2 separate regions of the Homo sapiens genome follow, and region 1 is linked to region 2. Evidence: fine-mapped expression QTL. Tissue or cell type: whole blood. Region 2 holds a variant in brackets; the other region holds the start of a gene. All regions are shown on one strand. Distances are from middle to middle.

Evidence for each region. PIP is the estimated chance that this variant, and not a neighbour inherited with it, causes the effect.
Region 1: CHN1 starts here. The variant in region 2 is fine-mapped to the expression of CHN1 in whole blood (TOPMed, PIP above 0.99).

What each region holds. Positions count from the first base shown.
Region 1 is chr2:175,002,121-175,010,317 of GRCh38, reverse strand. It overlaps CHN1 (chimerin 1), which reads left to right and starts at 4,937. Exons shown (of 13, transcript NM_001822.7): 1 at 4,937-5,424. The coding sequence starts at 5,406. RefSeq lists a silencer at 5,177-5,236 and an enhancer at 5,221-5,767.
Region 2 is chr2:174,774,020-174,782,216 of GRCh38, reverse strand. No RefSeq gene overlaps it. Among named protein-coding and RNA genes, the nearest start is that of CHRNA1, 14 kb to the right of the region's middle. RefSeq lists an enhancer at 1-170. The variant G/A (reference allele first, on the strand shown) is at 3,824.

The DNA.
Region 1 (8,197 bases), 230 kb before region 2:
CGCCTAGCCAGATGATAGCCACCTCTCATTTTAGCATATTTTTGGTGACTATCTTCTGCTACTATAGCAAGCACTGTGTAGGGGAACTGAGAAAGTTTTAAATTCTTAAGGTTTCTTATGTATTTCTCAAATTGAGTTTTACTTCATTTCTAAGGCCCAATATTACTATTATAATTTAGGCACCCTCTGGTGGTGAACAGAACACAAATAATTCTCCTAAACATTGAGTTATTTAAGCTTAACGGGCAATTTTACAGTTTATGACATAAATATTATTTTTGTCATAAATAGTGTTATGGTCTAAATCCTTATGTTTGAGGCAAGTGCTGCCTTAGTTACTTGTGTGCATATGTCTTTGTCCTGTGAAAGTGCTATTTGTAAATCATGGAATGCCACACAAATATCAGGTAAGTTATTAATTCAGAAAGTCTGAGATAAAAAACAAGAAGGGGGGTAAAAAATAATCGGAATTAAGTGTTTAAGGAAAACGTTGTTAAAAACAAACCAAATAGTCTAGGCGCGGTGGCTCATGCCTGTAATCCCAGCACTTTGGGAGGCCAAGGCAGGTGGATCACTTGAGGTCAGGAGTTCAAGACCAGCCTGGTCAACATGGTGAAACCAATTTCTACTAAAAAATACAAAAAGTTAACCAGGTGTGGTGGCTCATGCCTGTAATCCCAGCTACTCAGGAGGCTGAGGCAGGAGAATCACTTGAACCTGGGAGGCAGAGATTGCAGTCAGCTCTGAGATTACTGCACTCCAGCCTGGGTGACACAGTGAAACTCCGTCTAAAAAAAAAAAAACAAAAAACCAAACAGACCAAATAGCTGGATACAGTGGCTCATGCCTGCAATCACAGCACTTTGGGGAGGCTGAGAGGAGTGGATTGCTTGAGCTCAGGAGTTCCAGACCAGCCTGGGCAACATGGCAAACCCTGTCTCTACTAAAAATACAAAAATTAGCCGAGTGTGGTGGCATGCACCTGTGGTTCCAGCTACTCCAGAGGCTGGGGTAGGAGGATTGCTAGAGCCCACGAACTCAAGGCTGCAGGGAGCTGAGATTGTGCCACTGCATTCCAGCCTGGGTGACAGAGTGAGACCCTGTCTCAAAACAAAAACAAATCCACTTTAAACAAATTCACACAGTGGAAACAAACACTGTAACTAGTAACATAAATATGGGATAGAGAGAATGTCACATATTGTGAATATTTAAATAATTTTAACTTTCTTAATTTTAACTTTAGCAGAAGTATACTGTGTAACATTTTTCTCTTCACTAGCAAACTTCTGCACTATTTTGGGAACTGTGCTAATAGCACTGGTATTCCTAGTGTTTAAAGCTGTGTTGACATGACAAAGTACTATAATTTTAACTTGTTATTGTGAGGCAGAAACCGCCTCATTAATTTCTGCTTCATTGAAAACTGAGGAACAAATCAATGTTTACCAATGGGAATGAAGCTAAATGGGTAACAAAAAGAAATTCAAAACACTTGTGATAAGTCATTAGTTTAAAATGTAGGAAAACCATTTTAAAGGGTTGTCTAGGTTCTGTTTAGTCAACAAAACTTAAATAAAAATGAGAAATTGTTTTAGTAAATTTGAAATGGGTTGTTCAGTGCACACTTTTAATTTTAATCCTGTTAAACCAGAAAAAGGTTGCTTTCTACATGATTAATATAACATTATTAGTACAACACATTGCAGAAGAAATAGCAGTACCACTGGTTTGACAAAATATGACTTCTTTATTACATTAGGTATTTATGAACTTTAGATATAACAGCACTTTAAATATATTGAAGATTCAAATAAAAATGTCCTCTGTTTTATCCATAAACCAGTTAATTTAAAGATTTTAAAATATCACACAATGACAGATAAACCTAAAAGGGACATTAGAGATACCTTAGTACCATCCTTTCATTTTACAAAGGAGGAAGATAAGAACTAGAAACAGTAAAACATTTGTCTAAAAATCTGACAGCTAGTTAGTAACGAATAAACAAATCTGGCTCTTCTAAGCACTTGCATGTTAAGCACAAAATGAAATCATTGAATGAAAACATAAATATTTTGAGAAGTCAATTCATTCTTTGCCCTTCTTTTATAAACAATCTAAGTCACCACCCGTAATAATCACCTCCAAGCAGTTAACGCCCTTCCTTGCATTGACTCTGTAGCTGAAAGGCTGTGGCTTTATTTTCAGCTAAGTGAGAAAAGAAGCACATGCAATAGAATAGGAATAGCTCATTGAAAAAAATACGCTATTTTAAAAGCCAATACTATTTCCAAGACAGGCACTTTGATCAAGTATAGAGAGCATTTTGTTAGAGCATCAAACCATTTGGAAGTCAGTTGAAAGGAATGGCTCGTGGAAAGCAGGATGCTTTAAAGGGAAACATAGCAACATTCACACTGTTTTGTTCCAAATTGTACCTTAAAAACAGCTGTGTGTGTGTGTGTGTACGTGGGTGTGCGAGTAGAAAGGGGAGAGGAAAAGGATCTTCACTTGAGTTTAAGCAGGGTATTTCACTAGGATTCAGTTGTATTTGGCCAAACTAGTGAGTGGAAAGCTGGTCTAGTAACCAAAGGCCGGCTGTATGATGGGAGGGTAAATCTGAGTGCAGGGCAGCTCCTTTCTCTCTGTCTCACTCCCAGGACAACCCCTCAAGGGATGGAGAGAGCTACTAGCAAGCTGAGCTGCAGCACCAAAACCTTGATGCTCTAACAGAGCTTAACAAAGAGGAGAGAAAGGCATTGTTTCTCTTTTAGCATGATGGGACACATAGTTCTGAGTAGAAGGGCATGTTAATAAAAACTCTTTGAGACAAAATGCAACTTCCCAAACTCTATGCAGAATGGCTAAGGACAAAATACTCTCGTTATTTTGCTTCTAATACTAAACAGATTTTTCTTTTGAAATTCAAACCATGCAACCTCTAAATTGATGCGGGATGTGGGTAGGGAAGGTGGTCGGTGAGAACACCAGAAATCTAAGATTTTCCCATTGGTTCTGCTACTAAATAGGTGAACACATTTGGGAAAATCTTTTTACGGGGAACTCAATTTTTTTACCTATAAATCATGGGAGTTTTGGTCTTTTCCTATTCAAAATTCAATGGTTCTATTCTGAAGGAAAATATTTTCCTTTAAATTATAAAGGCAAAAACTTTCTGAGATTACAAAAAACACTTCCAGGGGCTCACCTAAGGTCCCTGAATAGCCCATAATCCCCTTGAAATTATGTGAAAAATTTCCGGTGAATGTGTGTATGTATGCAAGCACTTTTCTAAGAGGAGGGACAGTATTTTCATTAGAGCCTCAAAAGGAAATTTGGTCCAAAAATGTTGAAGACCACTAGTTGAAACAGTAAATGGAGTCTTCGGTTTCTGATTTATTTGGCTGCAGAGCAGATTAGCAGCAATCTTTATATGGTTATAAAATCTATCCCACAAAGCTTTCTTGAGTTTCTCATTTATTTTCATGAGCTGTGTGTTTGTAATTTTTTATGAGCAGAAAGGTTGTTCAAAATCAAGAGTCCATTTTCATGAAAGATTTTAAATTCTGGGGATTTTAAAGATGTATTTTGATTAGTGGCTAAAGAGAGCCATTTTACATCACAAAATTCCAAACATATAGCATCTTAAACACTTGCCCATTCATGTTGAATCATTTTAATATTTCTTTCTTCCTGAGTTAACTGACTTGAAACAAAAGGCTTGGCTCCTCCTTCCAACCTGCTTTTCTTCTGATGCTTAAGTCTGCTTTGAAATAATGATGGTGAATTAACTGTGGTTCCATTGGAAGTACTGTAGTAATCTCCCACTTTATCAGGATTCGATCTCTAAGATACATTAAATACAAGATATTTCTATAATATTCTTAAAGAATTATTTGAAAATGGGAGAGAAGACACTAGGGAACCTGAGGAACTAAGAGGAAAGACGCCTGTAGAAAGAAAGGAGAACCAAAGAGAAGATCTACATGATCAGATACCAAAATAGTATCAAATCCCTAAGCAGAGAAACAAGAAAAAAGAAGGAATTTCTTAAACAGGGAACACATATAGCAACTAGAGAAGAATGACTTTTTGAATACATTAAACGACAACGACGAAAAACATATAACCCAGCTTTTCAAGAACATCTTTTGGCTGACAATCTCAAGGCGTTGTATGGCTCCTCATGGCAGAGACAGAGGTGAGGAGACAACATCACAGAAAGGAGGACGTTGCCAGTGATTATCAGATAAATACAAGAAGCTCAGGGGAACAATCTTTTGTGGCAAATAAGTGCCAGTCAGTGACACATGCTGATTTTTTTTTCCTTGAGACAATATCAAAGAGGTATAATGTAAAGGGAAGAAAATCAGGTGTAAGCATTGGTCTTTTAACAAATTATCTTAGGTAATCTCAGATGCTTTTTAAGCGACTCCTTTTCCTAATGTGTGTCAATTTCATCAGAACTACTAGCAGCTCCTAAGTCCAAACGGAGAGGAATGCAGCTTTCAGTGCCTCTGTTCCTACCAGAGCCCTGCAGCTTCAGGTCACCGGCTCCAGCCACAGTGAGCCTGGAGGGCGCCAGGAGAAGAAATATGTTCTCACACGCACCAGGTCCCCAGATGACCCTGCCTGGGCGCTGCGTTCACTCAGCATCCTCCTGTGACTCTTCCTCTTTCGAGTAACAGCGTTTTTCTCCTCTCTGCGCCTCCTCAAATTCCATTCAAGAAAAAACCTGGGCTTTCAGCTAAAACGCACACCGGCCCCGCTCCATCCCGCTCCGGGCGGCCGCCTCCAGGGGGGCGCTGGTGGCTCCTCGCAGCCGCGGGAATGAGGGCGCACCCTCTTACCCCCGCGCGCGCCCGTTGCCATGGGAACGCACTCGACCGGGAAGCCCGAGGGAGAGGCGGGAGGCAGCGGCGCGGCCGAGCTCGTGGGAGACGCTATCGCAAGATGGCGTCTGCGAGGCCGCGGGATGCGGAGTGAGCGCGCCCCGCCGGGGGCTGTGCGAGGCTGCTGCTGCTCTCCCCGTCGCCGCCGCCGCCGCCGCCAGTGCGGCGCCGCCTCTCCGCCAGCCACTGCGCCGCGGCCAAGCCTCCTGCCTCGCAGGTACCTCCTCCCGCGCGCACGCTCCGCGCCTGATGGCAGCGACAAGTGCCGGCTCGCGGAGAGCTAGCGGGGCTCCCTGGGCCCGGTGCGCCCGACAATAACGCGTGAATAACTTTTTCTTGCAGCGGTCCCCCGCGTCCCGGCCTGCAGCCTCCCCGGGCGCCGGCGCCCCCAGCACGCCCCATCGGGCACCCCACTCTCTCCGAGGTGTGGGTGCGGCGGGCTGATGAGGTGATCCCTAGCCCGCCTGGGAGGAGCGCCTGGACTCGCGGGCGGCGGCGAGCGCCTTTACAATGGCCCTGACCCTGTTTGGTAAGTGCAGCCGTCTCCCCGCGCCGCCGCAGGTGGGCCGCGTCCCGGGGCTCGGGGGCGGGGGCCTGGGGGGCCTGGGCGCCCGGGGAGGGGGCGCGGCGCGTGGGGTCGGGGCGGGCCGGGGCCGCAGAGTTGGGGCGCCCGGGGCGCCGGCTTGCTCCCTCGCGCCTCTCCCATTGTTTCCTCTCCCGGCAGGGCCGATGGGCGTGTGCTCCCCTGGCCAATTCTCGGCTGGGAGGCTCAGAGGTCCTGGGTGTTTTGCAAACGCACAAAGATTCTCTAAGATGCCAACTTGGGAGTGAAGTTAACTGGTTGTTTTCAAACCTGCCTTTCCCGTCGGTAAATAAATCCTTGGAAAGTTTATTTATTTTGAACGAGGTATCTGTGAGTCCCCAGCCTCCTTGGAATTGCCAAATGCATGTGTTGCTTCCTGTTGGACTATTGGGGAATTTTTTTTTTGGACTCAGTATATTCCGTTGGAAATAAGTATGATTTGTGAACTGAATATGGGTTAAAATTGAAAATGTTTGCACTAACGAATGAGAGCAGACAGAATAAAGTTGGTTACCAGAAGATAACTGTAATCTCAGGAGACTGAGTATTCATTAAGAATGAAATGTTATTTTTGTGGTGTAATTACTGCAGCACTGTTGCTTTTGGTGGTTAAGACTTCAAGCTGTTTTTTTCTCAGTCTGCAATGACAATGGGTTGGGAAAAAGGACTGAAAAGATACATTCTTTCCTTTTACAAAACGACTATGGTACATACGTACCTGACTTTAAGAAAACTCAATATGTGAACATTAGACGTTCAAAGTATTCAGCTTTTTTGAAGAAGCAAAGTACAATGATATGTAATTGATAGCTACGAGAACAGCCTAAGTAAGTTATTCACAATATCAAGTTTCCAGTTCAGTTTTAATTATGTCATTTGATCAAACACGTTAGAGGTGTTACATACCTCAAATGCTTTTTGAGGTAAATACTTCCCAGTGAATTAAGCTGCTAGAATCAAAGTGTTACTTTTATTTAACTATCTTATTTTATAAATTAAACTTAGACCCAGAGAGGTTGTTTCCCAAAGTCACATGGCTCTTTTGTGGCAAAACTGAGCCTAGAATTCACTTCACCAGGCTTCAGTCTGGGACTGTGTTTACTGTGCCCAAGTGCATTACTAGAAGTGCCATTTCTTACTTGGTGATGATCCTCCATAGGTACTTTAAAAAAGTGTCTTCTTTTTCTGAAAAATAATAAAATTCTCGCTGTTTCTCAGTACCTTGTATCTAAGCATTATTTAATAGCAGCATTTTCCTTAAATGTGGACCTTTTTGGTACAAACATTTTCTTTCCTAAAGAGATATTTGGCATTTTCAAGGTGTGGTTTCAGAAGTAAGGTTTACAAGTCAACTTTTCAAATACTCGCATTCCTGACGAATAAAAAAGATAAATTGGGGTGAAAAATGCTCTTTTAAAAGGATTTCTAAATTCTAAATCTTTAACCACTGTGGTGAAGATGAGGAAGGGAAAAGCATGGAATGTGGCCTATAGAAGAAAGTATAAGAAATCACTCCCAGCCTTCAAAATGAATAATGTATCTTTAAAATTTTAAAGTCTACTTATGGGAAAATAGAATTCACTTCCCAAAATCCAGTTTGTTACAGTGTGAACGTTTCTGTGTTATAAAACAAAGCACTCTTGAGTGCAGAGGCTATTTGTTAAGTAGTGATAGAGCAGCAGCTGTTTTTAAAAGTGGTTGTACACCACTCATCAGTCATCTGGGATGTCTATTAAAAATGTAGATTCTTTTGCCCAAAGACATGGGGGAAGGGGATTTTAAAGTGACTCCCTTTGTGATTCTTATGCTCACTCAAGTTTGAGAACTGTTGTATTCAAGATAAATGCTAGGAGATTGGGTCAAACTCGCCCAATACAAAATAGCTTTTTGTGTATGTTGAGAGATGTACCTAAGGGTTAGAAGAAATGGATTTTATTTTAGATTTTACTACCTTTAACTAGTTGGTCTTAGTCAGAAGTGCCTCATGTCCCTTCATATTTACTCTTAATGACCAACTTAGAACAGAAGAGCAATGGAGCAATAAAGTTCTGTGAGATGGTAGTGAAAAGAGTTAGAGGCAGGGACCTAACCAGATCAACAGGATTTGTCAGAGCTCAGCAGAGTTTATACCTGAGGCTCCCCAGAGTAACGACTGCCAGGGCCCTATCTTTTGTATCTTGGTTGATTAGTTAGTGCAGTCCAGCAGTAGAGTCTAGACTAGTTATTTGCTTTGTGTTTTACATTTTCTTTCCATTCAGGCTTTTTATAAATTTAAGAAATGTTCTTTTTATAGGGAGTTGGTGACTTAGTTTTAAAAAGTGGAGCCTCTAACATTACCTGATTTTGTATTTGCATACATTTAATTTTTTTCACCTGTTAAGTATATTATAGGAACTCGAATACTTGTTAAATTAAGCTGAATAGTTAAGACTGTTTTATCTCTCATCCTCACTGTTAATCACCTTTGCTGCTTAACATATTTTTAATGCATATTAGTTTTATTTTGGGATAGAAGAACCAGACCCCAATCTTGAAAGATTTTACAGTCTCATTTGGGAATTGAAAATGTGCATTTTTGAAAGCTTAAGAATTTGCACCCGTTTTTCTTCTCCTTTCAAATGAACTCACATCTCATTATCAGCTTCGATATAGTTTTTAAATCCCCCAATTTCAAAAATTATCCAAATGTATTACAGACTCTGCTCGCTCACCTTGCTCA
Region 2 (8,197 bases):
CCTCCTCCTCTCACCTAAAATGGGAGGAGAGGGGGAGGAAATGCTGCATTTTCCTCCTGTGCTGAATTTATCCCGACTCAGACCGGCTGCGGAAGCCAGGGAGAAGATAAACAAAGAAGTCTTGTTATAATTTTTCAAAAAACTCCCAGTGCTCTGCAGCCCACTCCGTTTTCTTCCTACCTTGCTTAGGGTGGAACTCCGCCTGGCTTCTGCTGCTCTGTCCTGCATCTGAAGGGTGACCTCCTTGCTGGAGACCCTCCTCCTCCGTGTGAGCCCCAGACCCTGGCTGCAGCTTTATTTCACAGGTGGGGACTGAGCTCCGAGGCAGGTGCTTGGCATTTTCTAACCAGTTAACACCCTTGCTGTGGCCATCAGTTGGCCACTAGCTGCACCTGCCTCGCTGTAAACTGGAGAGCAATGGCACAGGACTTTACCTCATGCCCCCTTCCCTCCCTATGGAGGCCCTAAGGAGAGATACAGAAGGAACAACAGCCTGAGGAAGAAAGAGAAGTGAAGTGAAGGGCCTGGATATCCACCAAGCGGAATTTGGTGCTTGGACCAAAGGAGCTGGGCGGTAGGGGCAGGAAAGGACAGCCTCATGAGGGCCAGGCTGTTGTCTCGTTTAGTCTTCATTGTAGTCCGCTGGTGATAAAGAGAGCAATCAGTAGCTTTCCTCCTGGAGAGTGTGGGCTCTGCATCGGAATTCAGGCATCGTGGATATTTACACCTTGCCGTGGGGCACAGGCACATGGTTGAGCTGGGCCAATTAGAGACACACAGACTTAAGTGAGATGCCAGAGCTGAGAGTGGCAGGAACAACGAGGGACCACCATGGCAGGGGGCTGCAGGGGGTGGAACCCTGTGTCCTCAGTGGCCTTGGAGGTAGCTGTTCCCCTACGGTGGCCAGGCCCAGCACCAGCGGTACCCATAGGGGACTGTGATGTCCAGGAACCCACAGCAGGCGTCCCAGAGCCCTCCCGGCCCTAGGCTTCTGGTGTGGTTCTGCCCATGAGCCTGGCTGCGCCAGAGCCCTCCTGCTGTTTTCCAAGCTCACGCTGCAGCCCTCGCTGACTCTGAGCCACCCCATAGCCATTCAATACACTCCTTTTCCACTGAAAAGGCAGATAGTGAGAAACGTTGATCCAATAATAACATGAAGTCCATGAAAGCCTGTGGCTATGAAGAATGCTGAGCCATTGAATCCACCAGAGATAGTAAAGGGGGCCTTGAAATATTCTGAGGCTTGTAGAAGGGTAAAGTAAATACCTAAGGTAATTGTGATGGATACTGCCTGCTGAAAACAGCCCTTGTTCGTTTCTGCTGCTTACATCTGAGAGCTCCAGCTGATTTCCCAGACCCCTGGGCTTTGATTCCAGAGACTTCCACCCTGCTTATCTCCATATGCTTTCCGCCTGTCTGAGGCCAGAGTAGACCCACTACACTTAGATGAACCAAGCATATCACACATCACATAAGAAGGATAAAAGCCTCCAAATCTTGCACCAGCCTCTGCCCTCCTACCCTGACAGCCGCCACTTCTACCAGTGGGGGTTTTCCCACCAATCAGGCGAGTAGGTTGAGGAGAAACCTGTTCTGTGGGCAAGTGAGGACTTCTGAAACAACAAGGCCACCAATCAGGATGAAACTTGATGTCCTGAGAAGCCCCCACACAAGCCTCCTGCGTGGCTTCTGATCGGTTTGATTCTAGCCCTGCTGTTCTAGCTACCTGGTTACTTCTAAATGGGGCTTTTATTACTAAAAGCAAGGTTCCCAGAGCCTGGAGTGTCTTCCAACATTACAATCCACATTGCAATGGTGAATAGTCACCATCATGATCACTCAAAGGCCAGGCAGGTATTTCCTTTTGCACTTGCCCTTTTGCATTGGCATTTTTCTCTCTGCCTAGTCTTTTAGCACCTGCCTGGCAACATTAATTATTTAAAGGGAGGTCAGGGAGGGCCAGAGCATCCCTCTGTGCCTTGAAATTACTAGTTTGCTTCTACTCTCAGGAGAGTCAGAATACAGGATTCCCAAGTCTCTGGGAGAAGGGTCACATAACAAGAAACAAAGGGTTTCTTAAATCCATCCAGATTTGTAGGGAGGGATTTGTGGAGGGACCAAGGGGCTCTACTGGAAATAAGACCTTAGTGACTTCTTTTGAATATCTCTTGGCCTCAGAATAAAGCGATGATGTTCCTAGACCCAGAGGCCTTGAGCAGACAGAAGCTGGCCTCCGACTGTTAATCCTCGAAGTCCTTGTAATTCACCCACAGAAGGGGGCTCTGAAATCAGTGGAACATGTGGGCTCTGAGAGCATCCAGTCTCCTATTGTCCTCAGAATCCCACCTTCCTGATGACATCCAGATGTGTCATCATTCCACGGGTCTGATTAGCTGTAGAATGTGGTATTTCCGTGTTTCCAGGATTCATCTGAGTTAACTCTGCTGCTAATTGGATTTGTATCTGGCAGTGGTAACATCAAAAAAAAAAAAAAAGGTTTTGTAGTCAATTAGGTTTCCCTGGAACACACAGGAAGGGGTTGTCCTGTCAGCGCTGAGGTGTCTCTACCTTAATGAGCTGCCCCAGACAAAGGCACAAAAGGACATTATCAACCCTGAGTACCTGTCTTTAGTGGCTTCTGTTGAACAGGAAACTGAGCTGGATCTGGGCACATGCGAGCTGGCTTTACTGCACTCTCAAATCGCCTACTTCCCTGGGAACACATCTGAGTGTGATCAGGTGCATTAGAGCCACTTTAAAAAATCATCCCCAAGGAAATGAAATGCACAAATGGTATTCCTGCAGCCTAATGACCCAGGGCTTGGTTTAACTGCACCAAAGGCAGGAAATGGCCACATACGAAGCCAGTTACAGCCCCCACTGCCCCCATAACCAAGCCACATGGCACACACCTGGAGGAAGGGAAGTGGAATTCTTCCTGCAAGGTTTTTTTCGGGTCTAGAACAAATTATTCTTCAAATGTCTTAACATCCTGAGTGTGGGTGGAAGTGATGCTTAGTTATATCTTATGGGAAAGATGGCGTGTTTTAGAGAAGAATCATCTAGCTGGCTGGGGACTGCAGGAAGGGCCGATGGTCACTGAGGGAAAACAGCAAGGCCTTGGCTTTTTTTTCCCTTTGGGTCTTGATGGGTCAAGTTCTGCCACTTTTTTAGAATACTGGGGGTTTCCAATCTCTGCCCCAAAGATCTGGAGGCACTTCCTGCTCGAAGAGAACTGGAAAGGCAGGGAGAGTTCCATATTCGTCACTCAGCAGCAGTCACACTGCCAGGACTGGGAGTGGTCTGGGAGGAAGTGGGCTCTCTCTGGGACAGTGGGGAGCCCCAAGAGGAGTGACCTTGTGAGGAGGTGGCTTCAGTCACAGACAGTGGTGGGAGTGAGCCAGGCTGTGGTCAGTCCGTGGTGAGGAGGGATTCCATCTAGGGGCGGGCAGCGCCCAGCATGTGCTGTGCCAGGCCAGCCCCTGGGCCTGAGGTCAGCCTATGCTGTGTTTGCCTTCAGGATCCCATGACCCTTCTGTAAATGTGACGCAACGTGGTCCAACCACTGCTGCTATGGGAACTGGAACTGCACATTTCCTGCCTTTCATCTTCAGCGTGTTAGGAACGAATATGTCAAAATAAGCAAACCACAGCACCATCACTGGGGCGAGGGGCAGGGCTGTGGCTCTGGGGGAGCAGAGAGGGCTCCAAGCAAGCTGTGCCAAGAGAAAAGCCTGGGGCATGTTTTCTGCCCACACCAGGCCAAGCGAGTCTTCTGCTGGCCGAGGACAGGGGTGTTGCTCAGTCAAGGTGCACAGCCTGT[G/A]TGGGGACATGTGCTATGGTTGTCAGAACCCAGCTAATTCTGGGTTCTTTCTGGATGATGCTGGGAAAGCTTCGCTGTGGAATTTTATCATTTGCTGGAGAGCATGAGGCCCTCCCTTGATCTCCTGCCATAGTGGGATTCTGGAGAAAAGCCGGGCTTTGACAAGGCAAATTCAGAGAGCATAAATGCAGACCATGAACACAGCAAGCATAACTTTTGGGTGATGACACTGATCTTTAAAAAATCAAGTATGTTAGAATTTATGTCCCAAAGTGGGGTATCCTTGTGGCATCTCCTTGGGGATGGCAGGGAAGAAGGAAAGGGTGTGCACTTACCCTATTCCAATCCAGGTGGAAGAACTGCCTTATTAAACTGTGAGAACATTCAGACACCAAATACAGAGATGGTCCCAGATCTTTGCAGAGCCCAGCATTGCCTGGCTTGCTGAATGTTCTCCTTAATCCCAGTTTGCTTTCTCTCTCTAGCCCCCACCCTACCCCACATCTTCACTGCATCCGCACAGCAGGCAGCCAGGCTTTTCCTTCAGCCTCTCATCCCTGAAGGCACGGACGGCTCTTTCTCCCAGACACCAGGCCCAGTGTAAAGATTCAGGCCACATCAACACCCAGGAAGCTCCCTCATATGTCTCCCTTGGGTCTCTGACAACAACCTCCTATTTCTAAAACCTGCTTCCCAGTTCTGTCTTTGAATTGTTCTCTCCCGATTCCCTTGCTCTCACTTTCTAAGCTTGCTTCCTCTGGCTCTTTCTTTGCCCTTCCTAAGCCATATGGGAGGGGGGCAGATGATCTGTCTCTGTCTCAGGGAGGAATTTCCATCTGCAAAGTATCAGTCTTTATACATATGGTACAAGAATGAGCTCTGGTTTAGGACAAAAAGGGATACACAAATGCTGTGTCACTGGCAGGCTGGGGATGCTTGTCACAGAGCCAGGCACTAGGAACAAGTCCTTACTTAAGGTGACCATTCTAATCAACGACAGGGTCCTCCTTAACCAACACCATGCCAATTCACCTTCAGAATTGAAATGAGCACAGAAGTACATGCCTGCAAATTTTTCAAGTATTTTTCTCTAGGAAATATGAGCCAAAGATCAGGCTCTGGGACTGATATTTATATTTTGAAGAGGTAGAACTTGAGGGGCCCTCTGAGAGGGGTCAGCAGCTTCGACCTTAATGCAGGATTAATTGCATCAGGTCTGGAACTGGCCTGGCTAAAGCAAAGACTATCACAGCCCCACCTCAAATTAGGGATGCCTTCTGGTGCATCTCTTCCCACCCAAAACGTATCCTGAAAGCCCCCATCCTAGGAGCAAGGAGGAAAACACTGGGACAGCAGCCGTTTGTCCAGGACAAGGGGGGGCCTAGTCATCCTCTGACCCTTCAGTTCAGTGAGACTCTCATGCTCAGAAAGGTTTCTCATGACTGCCTGGGCTCCTCATGTTTCTAAGAAAGGGGGTGCGGGGTGGGAAGAGGATAGAGCCAAGGCTGTGTGTGCTGTTTTACAAGTCATCACAAGGAAGCTGAAAGGGCCCTGGAATCCTATCTCCTGCTATCTTGGCTCAGGTTCTCAGCATGAGCCAAAGCTGCCTTTATTGTTTTTGAAACGAAAAACAAGCATCATAAAGTTAACTTTCACCACAACAACTTTAAGTACTTCTGAAAACAATTTTACAGAAAAACAGAAAAGAACCAGACTGCACAAAATTGGTGCAACCACTAAGAAAGAAAACAGGTTTTATTCCTTTGATATTTTGCACAGATCGGGAGGAGGGGATAAAGGCATTGCATAGAGTTCAGTTAGGAGGCTGAATATCTGCAGCCTTATGGAATTTCCCAATTCCAGCAGGACACGAGCCCTCTGAAGGGCACTGTCTCTGATTTTGCTGGAGGACATCTCACTTTGGCTGAATTCTTCCCCTTATACCGTCATCCCTTGGAGCTGCACTCCTCAAAAGTGACTGCTGGTGGCGCTGTAACAGCAGCGGATGAATGCATCCTCCAGGGGCACAGGGATTGCTCAAAGGGGCCACAGATAGACAGCACTCATCTTTGAGGTCTGATATTTTAAGCATTCATGTGAATTTTGCATTCATATTTATTTTCACAGAAAGATCAAACTTTATATTGTTCATTGGTTGAACTCGTCTATAGTCCTGGCAGTGGACCACATAAAGACAGGAACTGGAAATGTGGACCAAAGTCAAGGGCAGAAACTCTCTCACAGGACTAGGACTGGACCTGAGCAAGACTGTGTCACCACACTGGGCAGGTGAGGGGCAATGGGTGCAGTGGGGGGTGATAAATGGTGATCCTAGTCAAAGGCAGGGACTCAGGCACCAGGAGCTGAGAGGTGCCACGACCAGGTCTGGAGAGTAACCTGGACAGCTCTGGGAGGATGCTCTCAGGACTCAGGGACCTCCTGGCCAGTGCGGCTTAGCTGAGGAAAGAGGAACTTCCTCAATGGCCCCGCCCATGCTGAGCTCACCCATGCTTCTCAGGATCTCACCTGACAACAGGATGAGTCCCCTTCCCTTGGGTTGGAGGCTTCCTGTTCCTTCTTGAACAGTCCCTGGAGTTCCTATGCAATGACAGGGGACTTTGACATGAGATGGGAGTAGGCTTTGGACTGCCTCACCCAGAAGCCAGGTGAGGCTCCGTCCCAACACTTCTCAGGATGAGTGTCATCACATTTTTTTCTCAGCCGGTTTCTGGCTGGAAATCTGACAGCTAAGCAGTCATACTTCTGGGTTTACACGCTGTTATTCTATCACTGAAAGTATTCAACAACATTTGGGTTTTAGTCATAACATAGCTAATGCATAATTTTGTTTGCTTTGCAGCCAATTAAATAAAGAATTGGAGCACATTAAATAAATGGTTAAATCGATTAATTTATATTTTTCCAAATCCTCAAGTAAAATTGAAGCTCCAGGCAGATGCACTATGTTTACTCAGGAGCTCCAGGCCTCCCACCCGGGGACTGCCAATGTGCCCAGAACTGTGACAAAACTAAGCTAGTACCACTAATGCATTGATTGAGCCAGAGCACACAGAAGGGACTTGTAGAAGTTGGCAATTTAAACAGTACTGATCATGGCCATATAATAGGCTAACAAGGCTAATGTACTTAAAATAGTATGACAGATGAAGTAGTGCTTGAATAAAATTCAGCCTTAACTAGCCAATCTTTAAAAGTCTAGCTAGATAATTAGGGAGCTGACACACATGTTTTAATTTGTTGTAAGGCCTCTGTAACAAAGAGAGAAGGTAAAACGTCATAAATATTCAACACATCTACACTCTTTCCACTGAACTACAGAACACTAAATCATTCTGTCACATACAAGGCCCATCCTCCTCACCCGTAATTAGCGAAGCATTCCCAAGACCAAATTACATAGTACTTAAGAAAATTATGAAAATGAGAATGTAAACAGTATCACATTTGACCACAGCACTTGTCAAACATACCCTGCATATCACGGGCTTTCTCTAAAGAAACCTGTTCGTGCATTTATTAGTGTCAAAAGACAAAGTTACAACAGATTTAATTTAAAGATCTTAATTGGCTTTTATTTGCAAATCTAGAATATCGGGCAACACCTCATTCTACAAAATAGAATGAATGTTCCCATGAGCCGAGCAAAGGATGTTGGTTTTATGGTCAGAAAATGGTTGAGGAAAGCAGAAACGGAGAACAAAAAGCAGATTGGTTGTTTCCAAGTTACTTTCTTTGGAAAGTTTGAAGCAGAGGGGCCTTCCTATCATGCCAGCAAAAACTGGCCTGTTTGGGGATTGGGCTGTTATCTCCCTGTCTTTCTTGATTTCTTGGAAGATCGGATAAACAACTCAGTTTTGGCTTGGTGGTGTGAACTTCAGCATGAGTGACTCCATTTTGGTTTGGTCTGTTAGGCCTGGTGCAGGAGCTCAGTCCAAGTCAATGGCCTCCTGTAAATTTCATGTGACATTACTCTACACGTTTTGGGACTAAAAGAGAGCATGCTTAGATTATTGTCATGTGTAGTGTCCTCACAGGCACATTCCACTTATGTATCAGAAACCCTTTATGAATTCTGTTTAATCTTCGCCATTTACCCAAAATGATTCAAAAGGGCTTACATGCTTTGGAAAAGACTAAAGGCTGTCTCCCAAACTTCTAGCTCTCTGATATTTGGCCACTTTTTAGCCAAAAGGATATGCAAGTCTTTGTTAGAAAATCGTGTATTAACGATTAGTGGACAACTAACTACTATTGTCTTAAACAGGAAAAGAAGAGAAGGAAGATTCCGTTAAAAATTCCAACAATATTTTAACATTTCTTGTATTGTCAGCTTTAGGATATTTTGAGAGCCTT